Linked DNA regions of Homo sapiens. The protein of the gene in region 1 purifies or fractionates together with the protein of each later gene. This does not show direct contact. Each region holds a gene or a part of one and is shown on either strand. Other genes may lie near its edges.

What was found.
Region 2: the proteins of PCDHB2 (region 1) and CLGN purify together in Homo sapiens (co-immunoprecipitation; one large-scale study listed by IntAct). This does not show direct contact.
Region 3: the proteins of PCDHB2 (region 1) and DKKL1 purify together in Homo sapiens (co-immunoprecipitation; one large-scale study listed by IntAct). This does not show direct contact.
Region 4: the proteins of PCDHB2 (region 1) and SYNGAP1 purify together in Homo sapiens (co-immunoprecipitation; one large-scale study listed by IntAct). This does not show direct contact.
Region 5: the proteins of PCDHB2 (region 1) and DLK1 purify together in Homo sapiens (co-immunoprecipitation; one large-scale study listed by IntAct). This does not show direct contact.

Annotation. Positions count from the first base shown.
Region 1 is NC_000005.10:141,093,327-141,097,420, forward strand, and holds the start of PCDHB2 (protocadherin beta-2 precursor), read left to right. Parts: upstream 1-1,288; 5' UTR 1,289-1,464; coding exon 1,465-3,861; 3' UTR 3,862-4,094. UniProt on the Homo sapiens protein: Potential calcium-dependent cell-adhesion protein. May be involved in the establishment and maintenance of specific neuronal connections in the brain.
Region 2 is NC_000004.12:140,403,649-140,407,166, reverse strand, and holds part of CLGN (calmegin precursor), read left to right. Parts: intron 1-1,083; coding exon 1,084-1,225; intron 1,226-3,518. UniProt on the Homo sapiens protein: Functions during spermatogenesis as a chaperone for a range of client proteins that are important for sperm adhesion onto the egg zona pellucida and for subsequent penetration of the zona pellucida.
Region 3 is NC_000019.10:49,366,867-49,370,384, forward strand, and holds part of DKKL1 (dickkopf-like protein 1 isoform 1 precursor), read left to right. Parts: intron 1-1,838; exon of another isoform or gene 1,839-3,518. UniProt on the Homo sapiens protein: Involved in fertilization by facilitating sperm penetration of the zona pellucida. May promote spermatocyte apoptosis, thereby limiting sperm production. In adults, may reduce testosterone synthesis in Leydig cells.
Region 4 is NC_000006.12:33,440,565-33,444,064, forward strand, and holds part of SYNGAP1 (ras/Rap GTPase-activating protein SynGAP), read left to right. Parts: intron 1-164; coding exon 165-401; intron 402-608; coding exon 609-810; intron 811-1,016; coding exon 1,017-1,195; intron 1,196-1,888; coding exon 1,889-1,930; intron 1,931-2,324; coding exon 2,325-3,396; intron 3,397-3,500. UniProt on the Homo sapiens protein: Major constituent of the PSD essential for postsynaptic signaling. Inhibitory regulator of the Ras-cAMP pathway.
Region 5 is NC_000014.9:100,725,414-100,729,704, forward strand, and holds the start of DLK1 (protein delta homolog 1 isoform 1 preproprotein), read left to right. Parts: upstream 1-1,478; 5' UTR 1,479-1,655; coding exon 1,656-1,722; intron 1,723-2,982; coding exon 2,983-3,046; intron 3,047-3,522; coding exon 3,523-3,653; intron 3,654-4,291. UniProt on the Homo sapiens protein: May have a role in neuroendocrine differentiation.

The DNA.
Region 1 (4,094 bases):
TTCCCCTCACATACCGATTTTCTCCCACTCAAAGTTTCCCTGTTATCAAAATCTTGCATTACTGTGGTACATTTGTTACAATTGATGAGCCAATACTGGTAAATTATTAACTAAATTTCATAGTTTAGTGTTCACTCTTTGTGTTGTATAGTTCTGTGGATTTTGACAACGGCATAATGTCATGTATCTACCATTGTAGTATCGTAAAGTACCCCATGTTTAACCTCTTCATCCCCCTCCCTCTTCTTCCTAGCTATCACTTGTCTTTTAAATGTCTCTATAATTTGGCCTTTTTCAGAGTATCATGTAATTTGAATTATACAGTATCATTGCCTTTTCAGACTGGATTCTTTCACTGAGAAATATGCATTTAAGTTTCCTTCATGTCATTCTGTGGCTTGATAACTTCTTTATATTAACATTAAAAAAGAAACAAAAAGACAAAATTAAAAAACCTAACAACAAACAATGACATATATACCCTGTTTGGAAGCAGATTGAAGAAACCATCACTGAAAAGACATTTTTAAAGATAATTGGGGAAACTGGAATATTTACTGGCTATTTAATATTATGAAATTGCTCTTTGCTAGATGTGGTAATTGAATTGAGGTTATGTTGAAAGTTCTCCTAGGCATTAGAAAGGAAAATAATATTGATACATTTACAATAAGGAAATATCTGGCTGCTCTTGGAGAGTTTCATGAGGCTCAGACACATCAAAGTTCAGGAAAATGTGAAGTGGGAGCAGTGCAAAGAAAGAAATATGAGTAAGGAGACTATTTCAGTGCCCATTAAAATACTCTTATTTGGATTCTGTGCTTTTCCTGGGTCTCTGTTTTTCAGCTGGGTTTGAGTGTGATGATGGTAATCTAACCACCACTGAGTTGCACACATGCCCAAACTCTGAATAAAAATAGAACTTTCTTAGTCTAAGCCTTCTTTCCGAAGCATGCTAGGACTGAGATCACTCCCTTCCAGGTTCTGAAATTTATTTTTTCCAGTTTGAAAAAAAAAAAAAGCTTGGATTTGTGAGGGAAGTGAAGATTTATTTATTCTTGCCCTGTCTCTATGGGTGCAATGAAGAGCCTTTCGAAACGCCAATAAGACTTCGGTACACTGAGAGACACTACTTGAAAATACTCAATTTCGATTGCCATCAGCCTGAAAGAAAGCACTGGGATTTTCTTAAAGTTTAGGAGAAAATAAATACTCGGAAGAGACGCGGGGTGGCGCTGCAGCCTTAGAAGTAGCAGAAACAAAGCACCCAGCCGACGCTCCCTTACCCAGATACTCAGCTAAAGAAGCAGCAAGCAGGAAGAGGAGGCTTTCTAAGGCGGTCGCTCCGGGAAATCCGGGCCCTAGGATTGTCCACTCATCCCAGTATCAGCGAGATACGGGGAGATAGAGTTAGCGACAACGTGAGCCAGAGCTGGAGCACGTTTGGTGAGAGACCAGAAAGCAATGGAGGCCGGAGAGGGGAAGGAGCGCGTTCCGAAACAAAGGCAAGTCCTGATATTCTTTGTTTTGCTGGGCATAGCTCAGGCTAGTTGCCAGCCTAGGCACTATTCAGTGGCCGAGGAAACGGAGAGTGGCTCCTTTGTGGCCAATTTGTTAAAAGACCTGGGGCTGGAGATAGGAGAACTTGCTGTGAGGGGGGCCAGGGTCGTTTCCAAAGGAAAAAAAATGCATTTGCAGTTCGATAGGCAGACCGGGGATTTGTTGTTAAATGAGAAATTGGACCGGGAGGAGCTGTGCGGCCCCACAGAGCCCTGTGTCCTACCTTTCCAGGTGTTACTAGAAAATCCCTTGCAGTTTTTTCAGGCGGAGCTACGGATTAGGGACGTAAATGATCATTCCCCAGTTTTCCTAGACAAAGAAATACTTTTGAAAATTCCAGAAAGTATCACTCCTGGAACTACTTTCTTAATAGAACGTGCCCAGGACTTGGATGTAGGAACCAACAGTCTCCAAAATTACACAATCAGTCCCAATTTCCACTTTCATCTTAATTTACAAGACAGTCTCGATGGCATAATATTACCACAGCTGGTGCTGAACAGAGCCCTGGATCGCGAGGAGCAGCCTGAGATCAGGTTAACCCTCACAGCGCTAGATGGCGGGAGTCCACCCAGGTCCGGCACGGCCCTGGTACGGATTGAAGTTGTGGACATCAATGACAACGTCCCAGAGTTTGCAAAGCTGCTCTATGAGGTGCAGATCCCGGAGGACAGCCCCGTTGGATCCCAGGTTGCCATCGTCTCTGCCAGGGATTTAGACATTGGAACTAATGGAGAAATATCTTATGCATTTTCCCAAGCATCTGAAGACATTCGCAAAACGTTTCGATTAAGTGCAAAATCGGGAGAACTGCTTTTAAGACAGAAACTGGATTTCGAATCCATCCAGACATACACAGTAAATATTCAGGCGACAGATGGTGGGGGCCTATCTGGAACTTGTGTGGTATTTGTCCAAGTGATGGATTTGAATGACAATCCTCCGGAACTAACTATGTCGACACTTATCAATCAGATCCCAGAAAACTTGCAGGACACCCTCATTGCTGTATTCAGCGTTTCAGATCCTGACTCCGGAGACAACGGAAGGATGGTGTGCTCCATCCAAGATGATCTTCCTTTTTTCTTGAAACCTTCTGTTGAGAACTTTTACACTCTGGTGATAAGCACGGCCCTGGACCGGGAGACCAGATCCGAATACAACATCACCATCACCGTCACCGACTTCGGGACACCCAGGCTGAAAACCGAGCACAACATAACCGTGCTGGTCTCCGACGTCAATGACAACGCCCCCGCCTTCACCCAAACCTCCTACACCCTGTTCGTCCGCGAGAACAACAGCCCCGCCCTGCACATCGGCAGCGTCAGCGCCACAGACAGAGACTCGGGCACCAACGCCCAGGTCACCTACTCGCTGCTGCCGCCCCAGGACCCGCACCTGCCCCTCGCCTCCCTGGTCTCCATCAACGCGGACAACGGCCACCTGTTCGCTCTCCAGTCGCTGGACTACGAGGCCCTGCAGGCGTTCGAGTTCCGCGTGGGCGCCGCAGACCGCGGCTCCCCGGCGTTGAGCAGCGAGGCGCTGGTGCGCGTGCTGGTGCTGGACGCCAACGACAACTCGCCCTTCGTGCTGTACCCGCTGCAGAACGGCTCCGCGCCCTGCACCGAGCTGGTGCCCCGGGCGGCCGAGCCGGGCTACCTGGTGACCAAGGTGGTGGCGGTGGACGGCGACTCGGGCCAGAACGCCTGGCTGTCGTACCAGCTGCTCAAGGCCACGGAGCCCGGGCTGTTCGGCGTGTGGGCGCACAATGGCGAGGTGCGCACCGCCAGGCTGCTGAGGGAGCGCGACGCTGCCAAGCAGAGGCTGGTGGTGCTGGTCAAGGACAATGGCGAGCCTCCGCGCTCGGCCACCGCCACGCTGCACGTGCTCCTGGTGGACGGCTTCTCCCAGCCCTACCTGCTGCTCCCGGAGGCGGCACCGGCCCAGGCCCAGGCCGACTTGCTCACCGTCTACCTGGTGGTGGCGTTGGCCTCGGTGTCTTCGCTCTTCCTCTTCTCGGTGCTCCTGTTCGTGGCGGTGCGGCTGTGCAGGAGGAGCAGGGCGGCCTCGGTGGGTCGCTGCTCGGTGCCCGAGGGCCCCTTTCCAGGGCAGATGGTGGACGTGAGCGGCACCGGGACCCTGTCCCAGAGCTACCAGTACGAGGTGTGTCTGACTGGAGGCTCCGGGACAAATGAGTTCAAGTTCCTGAAGCCAATTATCCCCAACTTCGTTGCTCAGGGTGCAGAGAGGGTTAGCGAGGCAAATCCCAGTTTCAGGAAGAGCTTTGAATTCACTTAAGTGTTAATAAGGATCTACTGAGGCTAGTCTCGTTTAATTTGTGGAAAGTCCTTTTTTACTGCTTTGCCCATTGGAGGTGTCTCCTTTTATTAGAAAGTAACCATCTTATTCCAATTCTATGCATGTTACTGGTATTTATAAATGTATGAGTTTTTTTGCGGTATAATAAATGTAAATTTTCTTTGTATTCTAATTGTTGGTTAGTTTCATTGCAATTTAATTGCATTTAAAGT
Region 2 (3,518 bases), on another chromosome or scaffold:
CAGGGGGAGAAAGAAAAGAAACTTGGAAACTTAATAAAAACACACACATTTTTAAAAGTCTAAAAATGTATGTACAATTATAGACCAAAAATTACCCCTCTTTGATTTATAAGACTGTGTCTGGTTCTTGCATTATTTTTCTTAGAAAGAAAAAAAATGATATAAGAGCATTTGTGATTCAAAAGTGCTCATTAATGAATATTTTGAGTTGACACAATACTGGAAAATAGCCAGTTTTGTCGAATTGAATTTTCTTGGAATAGGCAATACCTATCATTTTCAAAACAGAAGATTTTACACAAACAAATATAAGTTGATTTTCTATTCTAAAACCAGTAAAGGAGTAAAGTCTAACATATAACTTTTGGGCTATAGGTAGCCCACCTAGCTTTGCATTGTATGTGGCCCATAATCTAATTTCAGGAATGTCCTGATCTTAACATGGAAAATTGTAACACAGAGAAGGCCTAACTCAGTTTTGCCTTGTTGTAGCTTAGCACTTATGCAGTGCTTTGCTGCCTTCCTGGCCAAAAGTTCTGAGAGCTGATTAGTGTACCCTGAGAAGGGTTTGTGTGAATTAAGCATGCAGTTTTCAAAATGAACTTTAAATCTTTACAATAACTGCTGCAAGTAAGAAAAGTAGCTGATGAGTATTGTGCATTTCAAAATAAATAGACTACTCATTTTGTGTTATGTGTCATATGCAGTTTCAAATATGTCATTTTGAAAATACAATATTGACATACCCTATTGAGACAAACCACATTTTATAATTTCATTGATTAAAAACTCTTTCATAGAAAAACCAAACTAATTCAGCTTTAAGAGTGACTTAATTAGACACTATAGTGTTTGCTATTAGTTTTCACAACTTTAGTTAAGAAGATGAAATCATTCTTTGATAGAAAAAAAAAGATAAATGAGCAGGCATACATATATAGTTGAAGATATTTCCTGATTTAAAATTTTTATTTTTCCCAAGTCAGGCTTCCTGGATAAAAATTATTGTTCACAACTGCTGATAAATAATTCTTAGGTCAATGTTTTCTGTTTTAGTTTAATTTGCTTTGCTTTATTTTTTAGGAAGATGGGAAATTGAAGAGTTGAAAGAAAACCAGGTACCTGGTGACAGAGGACTGGTATTAAAATCTAGAGCAAAGCATCATGCAATATCTGCTGTATTAGCAAAACCATTCATTTTTGCTGATAAACCCTTGATAGTTCAGTAAGTGTTGCTATGTTTTTGAATACTTTTTCTGAATTTTGTATTAGCTTTGGCTTCTGAATATAGCTTGTATTTTGAAAATGGATGTGAAAATCTAGATCTTCCTTTTTCGTTTCACTTAGTTAAAACACAAATGTGCATATACACACAAACATATCCATGCTTTCAATAAAAAGCAGGTAAATGATAAAATTATACAAAGATCAACCATTCTTATGGCCTAGTACTAATATTTATATTTGTTTATTTCAAGGAGTTGTATGTGGGCTATTAAGCAGCATATTTCCTTTGGTCTGAGTGCTTGTATTGACTAAATGAGGAATAAATAGTTTGGCTCTCTTAAAAAAATTTAAAAATTATGTGATATATACTGTAATATATACAATTCTGCTGTCATAAACTATATAATGCATAGTAAAAATCACCATTTTTGTTTTACTCTTAAAATTACTTGTTATCGCCGGGCGCGGTGGCTCACGCCTGTAATCCCAGCACTTTGGGAGGCCGAGGCGGGCAGATCACGAGGTCAGGAGATCGAGACCATCCTGGCTAAAACGGTGAAACCCCGTCTCTACTAAAAATACAAAAAATTAGCCGGGCGTAGTGGCGGGCGCCTGTAGTCCCAGCTACTTGGGAGGCTGAGGCAGGAGAATGGCGTGAACCCGGGAGGCGGAGCTTGCAGTGAGCCGAGATCCCGCCACTGCACTCCAGCCTGGGCGACAGAGCGAGACTCCGTCTCAAAAAAAAAAATAAAAAAAAAAATAAAAATAAAAAAAATTACTTGTTATCAAAATATTAAACAATATATTCAGAACAGAATAATAAAAATTGCTATTAAACCAGTGATAAGATTCAAAGGCAGAAAATTTATTTCAAAAATAAATGTTTATGAATACCAGTGTCTTTCAAGCAGGGACCCCTTTTAAAGGTCACATTCTCACAGATAATCCTTTCTTTCAACCTCTCCACCTCCCCACCATGCCTGGCATGGTGCCTCATGCCTCATGTGTGTAATCCCAGCACTTTGGGAGGCCTAGGTGGGCAGACAGCTTGAACCCAGGAGTTCAAGACCAACCTGGCAACATGGCAAAACCCCGACTCTACAAAAAAATTTTAAAAATTAGCCAGGCATGGTGGTGCCCGACTGTAGTCCCAGCTACTCTGGAGGCTGAGGTGGGAGGATCACCTAAGCCCAGGAAGTCGAGGCTGCAGTGAGCCAAGGTCACACCAGTGCATTGCAGCCTGGGTGACAGAATGAGATCTTGCCTCAAAAAAAAAGAAAGAAAGAAAAAAAAAGAGGACCAAGAATTGAATAGCAGTCTTTCATATGTTTAAAAACAATTCAAAGGAGAGTGAATGTTTGTCTCCTCTTAATATTGATAAAATGAAATGGGGTAAATAAAATGAAGAGATTTATATTCAATGCTATAAATGCTGATTTACAACATAACTTTACTATAAAGCTGCTTTTCCCAAATTGTATACATGTTAATATATATGAATATAATTAAAGATGAAGAATATCCTAACTCAAAACGTAGGAAGTAAAGGCCTGGCGCAGTGCTTCACACCTGTAATCCCAGCACTTTGGGAGGCCAAGGTGGGTGGATCACGAGGTCAGGAGATCAAGACCATCCTGTCTAACATGGTGAAACCCTGTCTCTACTAAAAATACAAAAAATTAGCCGGGTGTGGTGGCAGGCGCCTGTAGCCCCAGCTACTCGGGAGGCTGAGGCAGGAGAATGGCGTGAACCCGGGAGGCAGGGCTTGCAGTGAGCCGAGATCATGCCACTGCACTCCAGCCTGGGCAACTGGGCAACAGAGTGAGACTGTCTCAAAAAAAAAATAAATAAATAAATAAAAATAAAATTAAAAAAGGAAGTATGTTAGCTCATTAAAGACTGAGAAGTTCTACATATGAAAACCTGTTTTCAGCATTACTACTGTGTTTCCCAAACACATTTGATCACATAAGTTTATTTTCCCACCTAACAGTAATTGCTATTTCATGGAACAATTTGAGAAATGATACTCTAAAGAAATTAAGGTTACCATATACTCTGCATATGTCCTTGGTTTTCCTATGACTGGAAGTTTAGCAGTAGTCAAGCTGTATGATAAACATTTTGTTGATCCTCTAATCCATTGTGAATCATTTATACTAGGTAAAAGTTAATTATTTGAAAACTCTAAAAGTTTGCAGTATAAGAAATGGACAAGGTGATTGAATCTAGGCATAATGGAACAATGAAACTGTGTTCACATTTATGCAGCCACTGTACAAAATTGTTTT
Region 3 (3,518 bases), on another chromosome or scaffold:
CCAGCTAATTTTTCTATTTTTAGTAGAGACGGGGTTTCGCCATGTTTCCCAGGCTGGTCTCGAACTCCTGAGCTCAGGCAATCCGCCCGCCTCTGCCTCCCAAAGTACTAGGATTATAGACATGAGCCACCACACCTGGCCCAAAATGTGATTTTCTTCTTCTTTTTTTGTTTTTTTTGAGATGGAGTTTCGCTCTGTTGCCCAGGCTAGAGTGCAATGGCACAATCTCAGCTCACTGCAACCTCCGCCACTGAGGTTCAAGTGATTCTCCAGCCCTAGCCTCCCAAGTAGATGGGACTACAAGTACGTGCCACCACGTCCAGCTAATTTTTGAATTTTTAGTGTAGACAGGGTTTCGCCATGTTGGCCATGTTGGCCAGGCTGGTCTCGAACTCCTGACCTCAGCTGATCCACCTGCCTCGGCCTCCCAAAGTGCTGGGATTATAGGCATGAGCTACTGCGCCTGGCCCAAAATGTGATTTTTAATACCAAAGAGCTGTATGAATGCTAAATGCGTTGTGTATTTCACCTTTGGTAAACTTTTTTTTTTTTTTTTTTGGAGACGAAGTCTCGCTCGTCCCCCAGGCTGGAGTGCAATGGTGCGATCTCAGCTCACTGCAACCTCCATCTCCCAGGTTCAAGTGATTCTCCTGCCTCAGCCTCCTGTGTAGCTGGGATTACAGGTGACTGCCACCACACCTGACTAATTTTTCTATTTTTAGAGAGACAAGGTTTCATCATGTTGGCCAGACTGCTCTTGAACTCCTGACCTCAGGTGATCCAACTGCCTTGGCCTCCCAAGGTGCTGGGATTATAGGCGTGAGCCACCATGCCTGGCCAGGCCACCTTTGGTAAACTTCTACAAGTGATTCTAATTATGAAGTGCTTTGCAAAATCAGGGTATTTTTAATCCTGAAAAGTTTTAAGAAACCCAAAGAGCTTGATACATCCATATGATACCCACGTACACCCATGCAATATCTTCATTTTAAAAATGTTTATTTAAAATTTTATTTTAAAAATTTCAGGACAGGCACAGTGGCTTACACCTATAATCCTAGCAATTTGGGAGGCTGAGGCAGGAGGATGACTTGAGCCCACGAGTTTGAGATCACCCTGGGCAATAGAGGGAGTCTTCATCTCTACAAAAAAATTTAAAAAGTAGGCCAGGCATGCTGGCTTACGCCTGTAATCCTAGCAATTTGGGAGGCCAAGGCAGGCAGATTGCCTGAGCTCAGGAGTTCGAGACCAGCCTGGGCAACACGGTGAAACCCTGTCTCTACTAAAATACGAAAAATTAGCCGGGCATGGCAGCCTGCACCTGTAGTCCCAGCTACTCTGGAGGCTGAGGTAAAAGAATTGTTTGAACCCGGGAGGCAGAGGTTGCAGTGAGCCAAGATCATGTCACTGCACTCCAGCCTGGGGGACAGAGTGAGACTCTGTCTCCAAAAAAAAAAAAAAAATCAAAAAAGTAGCCAGGTGTGGTGGTGTGTGCTGTGGTTCCAGCTACCCAGAAGCCTGAGGTGGGAGGATTGTTTGAGACGAGGAGGTTGAGTCTAAAGTGGGCCCAGATCATGCCACTGCACTCTAGCCTGGGCAACAGAGTGAGACTCTGTCTCAAAAAATAAATAAATAAATAAATAAATAAAATTTCAAGACTACAGAAAAGTTTTTTTTAAAAAACATACTTTATTATTTTGGAAATGGAGTCTCCCTCTGTCACCCAGACTGGAGTGTAGTGGTGCCATCTTGGCTCACAGCAACCTCCACCTTCTAGGTTGTGGAAAGTAAAAAAGTTTCTCTTTAAAGTTTTTATTAAATAATAAATCACAAGTGTTAGAAATAATATTTTTAATTAACTTTTTTTAAGCCTCTTTGCTTTGTGTTAGTAACTCTTTTTTAAACCATATCTTATGTAGTTGTTAGATATAAGGAAATAAGTACCTTCTGTGTCCTTGTACGTTAACCAAGATATTTGGTCTCGACGTGCTCAAGCATGTCCCAGCTCACAGCTTATGCCCTTTCCTTATTTGGAAATGTTATTACTTCTCCAAGTCTTTTGGCAAGCAACTTCCTCTTTTCCTTTGTTCTCCATTGCCTTTACCTATTTAAGAAAGTTTTTTAAGTTGTTAGCCAATTGGGTTTAGCTTAGACTGTGAGGTCCAGCTCCAACCAATGGAGACAGGACACAGCAGTAAGGACCCAATGCATAAGGGATAAATATTCCTGCCTTTCTTTGTTCATTGTGCTCTCCTGGCAGGATTGCTGATGGGCAGCACCCTTTCTACAGAAAGTAAAATTGCCTTGCTGAGAAAACTTTTTGTCTGAATGCTAATTTTTCCTTGCGACACCAAGAAACAAGCATTTTGATTCTAACACAGGTTCAAGTGATTCTCCTGCCTCAGCCTCCCAAAGAGCAGGGATAACAGGCACGCACTACAATATCCAGCTAATTTTTTTTTGTTTGTTTTTTGTTTTTTGTATTTTTAGTAGCGATGAGGTTTTGCTATGTTGGCCAGGCTGGTCTTGAATTCCTGACTTTGGGTGATCCACCCACCTCGGCCTCCCAAAGTGCTGGGATTACAGGCAAGAGAAGTTTTTCTTAAAATAGTACAACAGATTTTAGGCTCTTCTGTATCTGCCCACCGAGCTACTCTGTTCCTGGCTTAGAGAACCAGGAGAAGGGGAAGGGGAATCACCTGCCACATGCTGGAGGTTGGAGCCTGTGGCACCATGGCTTGCCTCACTGCAGTTGGTGGTGGCAACAGAGGCTGCAGTGTGGCCAGAGTGGCTTTTCTGGCTTTGCCCGCCCAGCCACTCTGAGAAAGGCTGGAGGAGAAAGTGAAGGAGGAGTCACCTGTGGTGAGGTGGAGTTTGGAGCTTGCAGATGGCACGGCTCTGTGGCTCACCTCCTACAGTTGTGGCGGTGACAGCGAGGGAGACTTCAGCCTGACTGGAGTAGAAGGGTGCTCGTGAAGGCTAGAGTATTGCCTCCAAGATGCAGCAGTGGATACTCAGGTTTCAGGAGACTCCACTGTCCATGGCGAATCCATGGTCTGCCAGCGCAGTTTTAGAGAGAGAATGTGCCACCGCAGGTGTCATCCTCATGTGCACCCTGGCAGGTAGCCATCTGAAGATTTCAAGGACAACCTGGCAGGGGAGCAGACCAGCGACACTTCCTCTGAACAGGTTCTTGCTGTTCACTTGACAGACTCAGCAACTCAGGCAAGTGTTCACATGGAAGATATCCTGGAAGGATACCAAGCCAGTGAAAGCTCAGATGAAAATGCCCCATGGCTTTGGAAGGCCAATGAATGTGCCAAGGAAAAAGGTGCCATGGAGGATCCTCTGGAAGACCTCGCCAATGAAATTTCAGATTAGGACACCCCACTGGATTTGAAGGCCAAAGAACGTGCCAAGGAAAAAGTTCCCATGGAGGATACCCTGGTGGAAGACCTTGGAAACGAAAGCTCAGATAAGGATGCCTCACTGGACTTGAAGGTTGACAAACGCATGAA
Region 4 (3,500 bases), on another chromosome or scaffold:
CTCCTGCGGTCCCTCCTTCCCTGTCTCTCTCACCCCTGTTTCCACACCCTCACCTCCTACCACCCCCCTCAGCATGTTCCCTGGAAGCTGAGGGTCTCTGGGGCTCAGTCCCGGTCTCTCTCTTTCTCTCTCTCTCTCTCTGTCTCCCCGACCCTTCCCCCCAGCGTGTTCCCGAGGGAGCTGAAGGAGGTGTTTGCTTCGTGGCGGCTGCGCTGCGCAGAGCGAGGCCGGGAGGACATCGCAGACAGGCTTATCAGCGCCTCACTCTTCCTGCGCTTCCTCTGCCCAGCGATTATGTCGCCCAGTCTCTTTGGGCTTATGCAGGAGTACCCAGATGAGCAGACCTCACGAACCCTCACCCTCATTGCCAAGGTCATCCAGAACCTGGCCAACTTTTCCAAGTGAGGGAAGCTTCAGGAGTGGGCAGGGCAGGGAGTGGCAGGGCAGGGAGTGGCAGGGCTGGGGGTCGGCAAGAAGGGTCTCCTGAGTCCCCAGAGATCCTGAGATGGGGAGGCTATGATACCTTGTGTGTGTGTGTATGTGTGTGTATGTGTGTGTGTGTGTGTGTGTGTGTGTATGTGACCTTTATCTTCTGCATTCTTGGCTAGGTTTACCTCAAAGGAGGACTTTCTGGGCTTCATGAATGAGTTTCTGGAGCTGGAATGGGGTTCCATGCAGCAGTTTTTGTATGAGATCTCCAATCTGGACACGCTAACCAACAGCAGTAGCTTTGAGGGTTACATCGACTTGGGCCGAGAGCTCTCCACACTGCATGCCCTACTCTGGGAGGTGCTGCCCCAGCTCAGCAAGGTCAGCAGATCCCCTCTTTGCCCTATCCCCAGATGGCTCCAGAGGTTCCTGGAGCCTGAGAAACTACCCTTTGAAGATTTTTTTTCTCCCCTTGTTTCTCGAGGTGTCACCACTACTATCCCAACTCAGGCCCCCTCCACCTGCACCCTCAGAGGCCCTCTTAGAGCTGGGCACTGAGCCCCCAGGTAACAGCCTCACCCTTCCAGGAAGCCCTCCTGAAGCTGGGTCCACTGCCCCGGCTCCTCAACGACATCAGCACAGCTCTGAGGAACCCCAACATCCAAAGGCAGCCAAGCCGCCAGAGTGAGCGGCCCCGGCCTCAGCCTGTGGTACTGCGGGGGCCATCGGCTGAGATGCAGGGCTACATGATGCGGGACCTCAACAGGTGAGCACCCTGGGACAGCCAGGCCTGTGCCCTAGGAGCCCTTCTCCTATTCTAGATACTCCTCACTGGGCCCCACATGCATCTCTCTAGGGCTTGAAAGAAGGGAGGAAAAAGCACCAAGTTCTCAGGGGAGACGATAAGGAGACAGGTACAGTCAGTGGTAGGCTGAGAGCCCTTTACAGCCTGAGGGAGTGAGAGATTTGGAGCTCTAGGAATAGGGCTGAGGCTCCACCAACTCACGGCTTAGTTGTAAGCCTAGAGCATCCCTGCTGCAAGCTCTGATTTGCTGTCCCTCTGCCTGCCCATGCTAGTCCCCAGGCTGAGGTTCAGCCAGCATGTCATGTCAGCCATGTGTCAAAATGTTCAAACATCTCAGTAATAGCTAGTGAATAAGCACTTCCCCCAGCCCCCGACCACAACCCCACAGACCTCCCCATGATCCAGCACTTAGAGCAGTGACAGCAGAAGCCTAGCAGGGCCTGCAGCCTGCTCCAGAGTCCCAGCCTCCATTCTGATAGGTGGTGCCCGTGCTTCATTTGCTGCTCATTATTTTGATGATGGCCCTGCTTTTTCCTCTGCCCGTGTCTTCCTCCATGACACCATACCCATCCCACCATTCCCGCCTCTCCTTTCATTTGTCCACATCTCTCTCCTTCTCTGTCTGTGCTCGCCCCTCTTTCCATCTCTCTCCAGCTCCATCGACCTTCAGTCCTTCATGGCTCGAGGCCTCAACAGGTGAGGGGCTCTCCCCTCCCCCGCCCTCCTCTCCTCTCCTGTCTGTTCCCTCTCCCACTCCACTGGCCTTCGCCCTACTCCTCTCCTCTCCTCCTCCATGGACCTCATCTCCTCCATATGTGCCCAGCCCTGCCCCCATCCCTTCTCTTGCTGCCCCCATCTCCCCTCCTCTAGGCCTCACCCCCTTCCCGGAGGGGCCCTGTCCTTTCCCTTTACTCACCTGTCCCCTCCCATCCTCCCTGCCTGCCCTCTTCAGGGCTGCCACCGCTAGCTCTCAGCCCTTCCCTCTGGGTCCCACTTTTCACCCCAAGGCCTGTGCCAGACCACAGCAAGGTTCAATTGCTAGGAGCCCTGACCTTACCTTCTGCTTGTGTGCCCCCTTCCCTTCTGACAGCTCTATGGACATGGCTCGCCTCCCCTCCCCAACCAAGGAAAAGCCACCCCCACCACCGCCTGGTGGTGGTAAAGACCTGTTCTATGTAAGCCGTCCACCCCTGGCCCGTTCCTCACCAGCATACTGCACGAGCAGCTCGGACATCACAGAGCCAGAGCAGAAGATGCTGAGTGTCAACAAGAGTGTGTCCATGCTGGACTTACAGGGTGATGGGCCTGGTGGCCGCCTCAACAGCAGCAGTGTTTCGAACCTGGCGGCCGTAGGGGACCTGCTGCACTCAAGCCAGGCCTCGCTGACAGCAGCCTTGGGGCTACGGCCTGCGCCTGCCGGACGCCTCTCCCAGGGGAGTGGCTCATCCATCACGGCGGCTGGCATGCGCCTCAGCCAGATGGGTGTCACCACAGACGGTGTCCCTGCCCAGCAACTGCGAATCCCCCTCTCCTTCCAGAACCCTCTCTTCCACATGGCTGCTGATGGGCCAGGTCCCCCAGGCGGCCATGGAGGGGGCGGTGGCCATGGCCCACCTTCCTCCCATCACCACCACCACCACCATCACCACCACCGAGGTGGAGAGCCCCCTGGGGACACCTTTGCCCCATTCCATGGCTATAGCAAGAGTGAGGACCTCTCTTCCGGGGTCCCCAAGCCCCCTGCTGCCTCCATCCTTCATAGCCACAGCTACAGTGATGAGTTTGGACCCTCTGGCACTGACTTCACCCGTCGGCAGCTTTCACTCCAGGACAACCTGCAGCACATGCTGTCCCCTCCCCAGATCACCATTGGTCCCCAGAGGCCAGCCCCCTCAGGGCCTGGAGGTGGGAGCGGTGGGGGCAGCGGTGGGGGTGGCGGGGGCCAGCCGCCTCCATTGCAGAGGGGCAAGTCTCAGCAGTTGACAGTCAGCGCAGCCCAGAAACCCCGGCCATCCAGCGGGAATCTATTGCAGTCCCCAGAGCCAAGTTATGGCCCCGCCCGTCCACGGCAACAGAGCCTCAGCAAGGAGGGCAGCATTGGGGGCAGCGGGGGCAGCGGTGGCGGAGGGGGTGGGGGGCTGAAGCCCTCCATCACCAAGCAGGTAGGTGAAGGCAGGAGGAAGGCGGGCTGGGTCACAACAGGGAGGGAAGAAGGAGATGGGGGGTGGGGTTGAAACAGAGTCTGTGGCCTGAAGTTACAATCTTC
Region 5 (4,291 bases), on another chromosome or scaffold:
TGGTGAGATCACACCCCCCTGCAGCACTGTGAAGAAGGGGAGGCCGCGAGCTGGGTGGGCACCCACTCCCTGCATCTAGGATATGTATGCAAATTAATATATGCAAATTAAGTATCCTAAACGACCCACCCAAAGATTGGGACGCCTGGGACCCTTCCCCCAGGAGGTGAAATATCTTTAATCCCCTCCTACCCCTCTCCCTCCCTATCTTTCTGAGCCTCCCCCATCCAGACTGGGTGCAGGGGTGCAGAGCTTTCCTCTCCAGCAGGGCTCTAAGCCTAAGCCGGGGGCAATGGGGAGGAGGGGTGTCTGAGGAGCACTCCCTCTCCCTGGGAGCTCTGCAGAGGAAGAGGGTCTCTGGCAATCAGCATCCTCTACCTCCACCTCTCCAGCGGGCGACCCCTCAGAGAAGGTCTCCCAGTGAGTCTGGAATACGTGCCGAGTGCCTGGAGTGCTATTGTGTGTATGTGAGAGCACATTGGTGAGGCTGCCCATGCATGCCACTGTGGACAAAGACAGATGCGATCGTGTGTGTGTGGGGACTGCGTATATGTTTTTGTCAGTGTGTGTGACCACGAGTCAGCTGGGTATGTGTGCTTGTGGGTATCAGGTGCATGGCTGTGCGTACATGTGTGCGTAAGAGTCGGTGCATTTGTGTTTCAGCGCGGCTAAGGCCCTGACTGAGATGCTGTGTGTGCGGGGGTGGGTGTGACTGAATGCGGGCACGGGTGTCCGTCTGTTTATACGTGTGTTTGCGTGTTTGGGTGTGCAGGTGGCTCTGCGTAAGCGTCTGTGTGCAGGGGGTCGGCACATGGGGGAGGATGCCCATGGTTGGGTAACCGCAGGTCCGCTTGACCCTCTGCCACCTAGGACTGTGTCTATACGGCGTCTGGGCTACAGTGTGTTTGAGTTGCCGTGTGCGTTTCCGTTGCGGGGTGTGGGTTGCCACGGGGCAACTGCATTTTTCTGCGTCTTCATGGCCAGGGGTACAGGGGGCGTCGGGCTTTTCCTGGGGGTTTTTCTGTGTGCGTGTGTAATTATGTGCTTAGTTCACATCTTCATAGTGCGCCTTTGTGTTTTCCTGGGTATCTAACCATTGCACGTGTGCCCGGGACTTCAGCGATAAGTGTTTCGGTGTTCCTGCGTGCGGATTTGTGCTCTCCGGGGAGGTCTGCGGCCCAGGTTCGATTCCTGCGACTTGTCCTAGGCAGGCCTGTATGTGCGCGGCGGCCGCGTGCTGTACAGTGTGAGGGAACGTGTACCAAACGCTCGCGGGATACCTGTGCCCGTCTAGCCAAGAGTGCACCCGTGTGCGCGAGCGGGCTTCTGGGACGCCGCCGTGGTCGGGGGCGGCCCTGCGAGGGGAGGGGGTCACAGGGACTGGCCGGCGCCGGCCCCGTGCGCACGGAGGCGGGGGCGGGGGGCGGGGGCCGCGAGGGGGGAGGCGGTACGAAAAGGGCGGCGCGCGCGGCGGCGGCGGCAGCTCCCCGGCAGCGGCGGTGGAGAGCGCAGCGCGCAGCCCGGTGCAGCCCTGGCTTTCCCCTCGCTGCGCGCCCGCGCCCCCTTTCGCGTCCGCAACCAGAAGCCCAGTGCGGCGCCAGGAGCCGGACCCGCGCCCGCACCGCTCCCGGGACCGCGACCCCGGCCGCCCAGAGATGACCGCGACCGAAGCCCTCCTGCGCGTCCTCTTGCTCCTGCTGGCTTTCGGCCACAGCACCTATGGTGAGTTCCCCGGCGGCCCGGCTCGCGCCCCCTCTGGGGAAGCCTGCGACTCCCCGCCGGCCGCCCGGTGCCCCGCACGCCCCGTCTCGTGAGCCCCAACTCCGCCCGTCCCGCCTAGCCCTAAGCCCCGCGCTGTGCCTGTCTCGCCCTACCCACCACGCTCGCATGCCAAGGCCCGTCCCAGGGGTCCCAGGGCGCAGGGGATGTGTGAGACCCCCAGCCCCTTCCCGCCCTGCAGAAGTGGCGCCAGAGGGGTGTCGGTGCGCTGAGCAAGGAGGTATGGAAAAATGGGGTGCTGTTGTGGAGTCTTCTATGAAAATACTCTGGGGTGCAACTTTGGGGTGTCCCTGTGTGAGCGTTCTGGAACAGGTCTCGGGGCGGGAGTGGGGGACGACTTTGCCGTCTTAGCCCCCAATTCCCAGAGAAGCCCAGCCTGAGCCCTTCCTGCGTGGCGCGTTTCTGTAGGTGAGGGGCTGCGACACTTCTGTCTGCAGCGGCCATCTGTCTCTGACAGCGAGAGAGTTGCCCCCTTCCTGCAGCGCCCCCCCACTCATTGCACCAGTGGTTGTAAGGGGGCTGTCTAGAAAGCTGGGGAGCTGGTTGAGTAAATGCACACAGTAGGTGCCTGTTAAAGTGTCAGAATCTCTAAGCAGTGTTGTTGCAACCTCAGCCCGCTAAGCAAAACCCTGTGTCGTCATCGTTTTTTTAATGCGAAGAGTCTGGGGTAGGGGAAAGAGGGAAGATTTGACCTGGGTGCCCGGCTTAATAGGGATGAACCTTAAAAAGAATGCAGACGCCTTACTGGGGCGCCCACCAGGTGAACCTGTCTGGGCTTTCCCGGAGTTGAACACCTCAAAATCTGCTCCTCTTTTCAGCTCAGGTTGCAAAAGTGACGGTCAGGCTGCATGCCCAGGGCTCAACATATTTCCCTCCACGGTCCCCGTCCCCGCTGTTAGGAGGACTTGAGGTGTCGTATTTGCTTTTGGGAGTCCGAGGAGAAGGTGTTTCTCCTGCTCCTAAGAACGAGGGAGAGTGTACTGTGGTCATTTCATTGCTGGGAACGTGGCAGAGATGTTTTTCCTGAGTGCACTGAGCCCCATCCATGCTCGGATAGGAAGTGCCTACTGTGTGCCAGGCTGGTAGGACCCAAGAGGGCTGTTGGTGCCCTCGAGGGCAGTGGTGGGCTGTGTGGGCGAAGACAGCCTTTGCCTTGGCCTGGGGCCTGGTGGGGTGAATTGTATAACCTTTCTTGTACCTCAGGGGCTGAATGCTTCCCGGCCTGCAACCCCCAAAATGGATTCTGCGAGGATGACAATGTTTGCAGGTAATAGAGTGGCTCCTCAGAGGCAGCTTGTAGGGGCCACGCAGAAGCCTGGGGAGTCGTGAAGTCAGGCAGAAAAAAATAGGGGGCTTGGCCACTACGCTGCAGCAAACAGCTTCCGGGCCCCTGCAGAAAACTGGTGGGGCGAGCTGGGGAGATGGGGGGGGCGGGGGGGGGGCAGCCACAGCTCCTGTCTGCGTTCTCAGAGGTGGGGGGGCAGGTGGGACCACTGCAGGCCACTGCGGCAAAACGCAGCACTCCCCCGGGATCTCGGGGCCCCTCCAAGTCGGCCCCCTCAGCTTGGCATGTTTTCTCTTTAAGTTTTCCCATTCAGGTGGCTGGTGTTTACTTCCCAGGACCACCGGCTGCCACTGTGCAAAGACCCCCAAGGGTCCTTGGTTCCACAGAAAGTAGCCTGAGCTGCCTCTCTACCCCTGCCCTCTTCATATGTCCCCACCTTTCTCCCCCACCCATTGCAGGTGCCAGCCTGGCTGGCAGGGTCCCCTTTGTGACCAGTGCGTGACCTCTCCCGGCTGCCTTCACGGACTCTGTGGAGAACCCGGGCAGTGCATTTGCACCGACGGCTGGGACGGGGAGCTCTGTGATAGAGGTTGGCACTCGCCTTTGTTCACCTCAGCTCTGCGTCCTTACCTGCCTGCCCTAGCCCCTACCACCTCCTCCCAGTCTCCTGTTGCTGGTGTTCCTCACTTCCTCATTCCTGCACACTCCGTGCCCTGTATTCTAAAGATCTGTTTATAAATTTCCTGTGGGTACCGAATGCCTCCTCAGAGGTAGGGACTTTATTTTGCTCTTCTCTGCGCCATCAGCACCCAGCACCTAGAGGGAACATGGCGTGGGGGCCAGGGAGCTGCCTGTTGAATAAAGAGTCACAAAATACACATACAGCTGGGCCGGTGGGACCACAGACCCCAGGCTGCCTGTCCAGGTCATGGAAGCCCAGTGATGGACAGGGCTCTGGGGATCTCAGAGCTAAGACTCCCTAGAAAAGCACACGCAAGACTGTAAAGAGGCTGCAAACAAACAAACGGGGTGGGGGGTGGCCAGCACTGCTCAGTGGTTGAGGGGCAGGTGCTGAGTCAGGGCCAGGAGGACAGGGCTGGGGGGCCTGGACTGAGTGGGTCAGGTGTAGGGGGAGGCTGCAGTTGGGAAAAGCTGAGAAAGGGTTAAAGTGAAGATGGGTGTTATCTGTTGATTTCATTAATTTATGCAATCTTTGCCTCCATTACC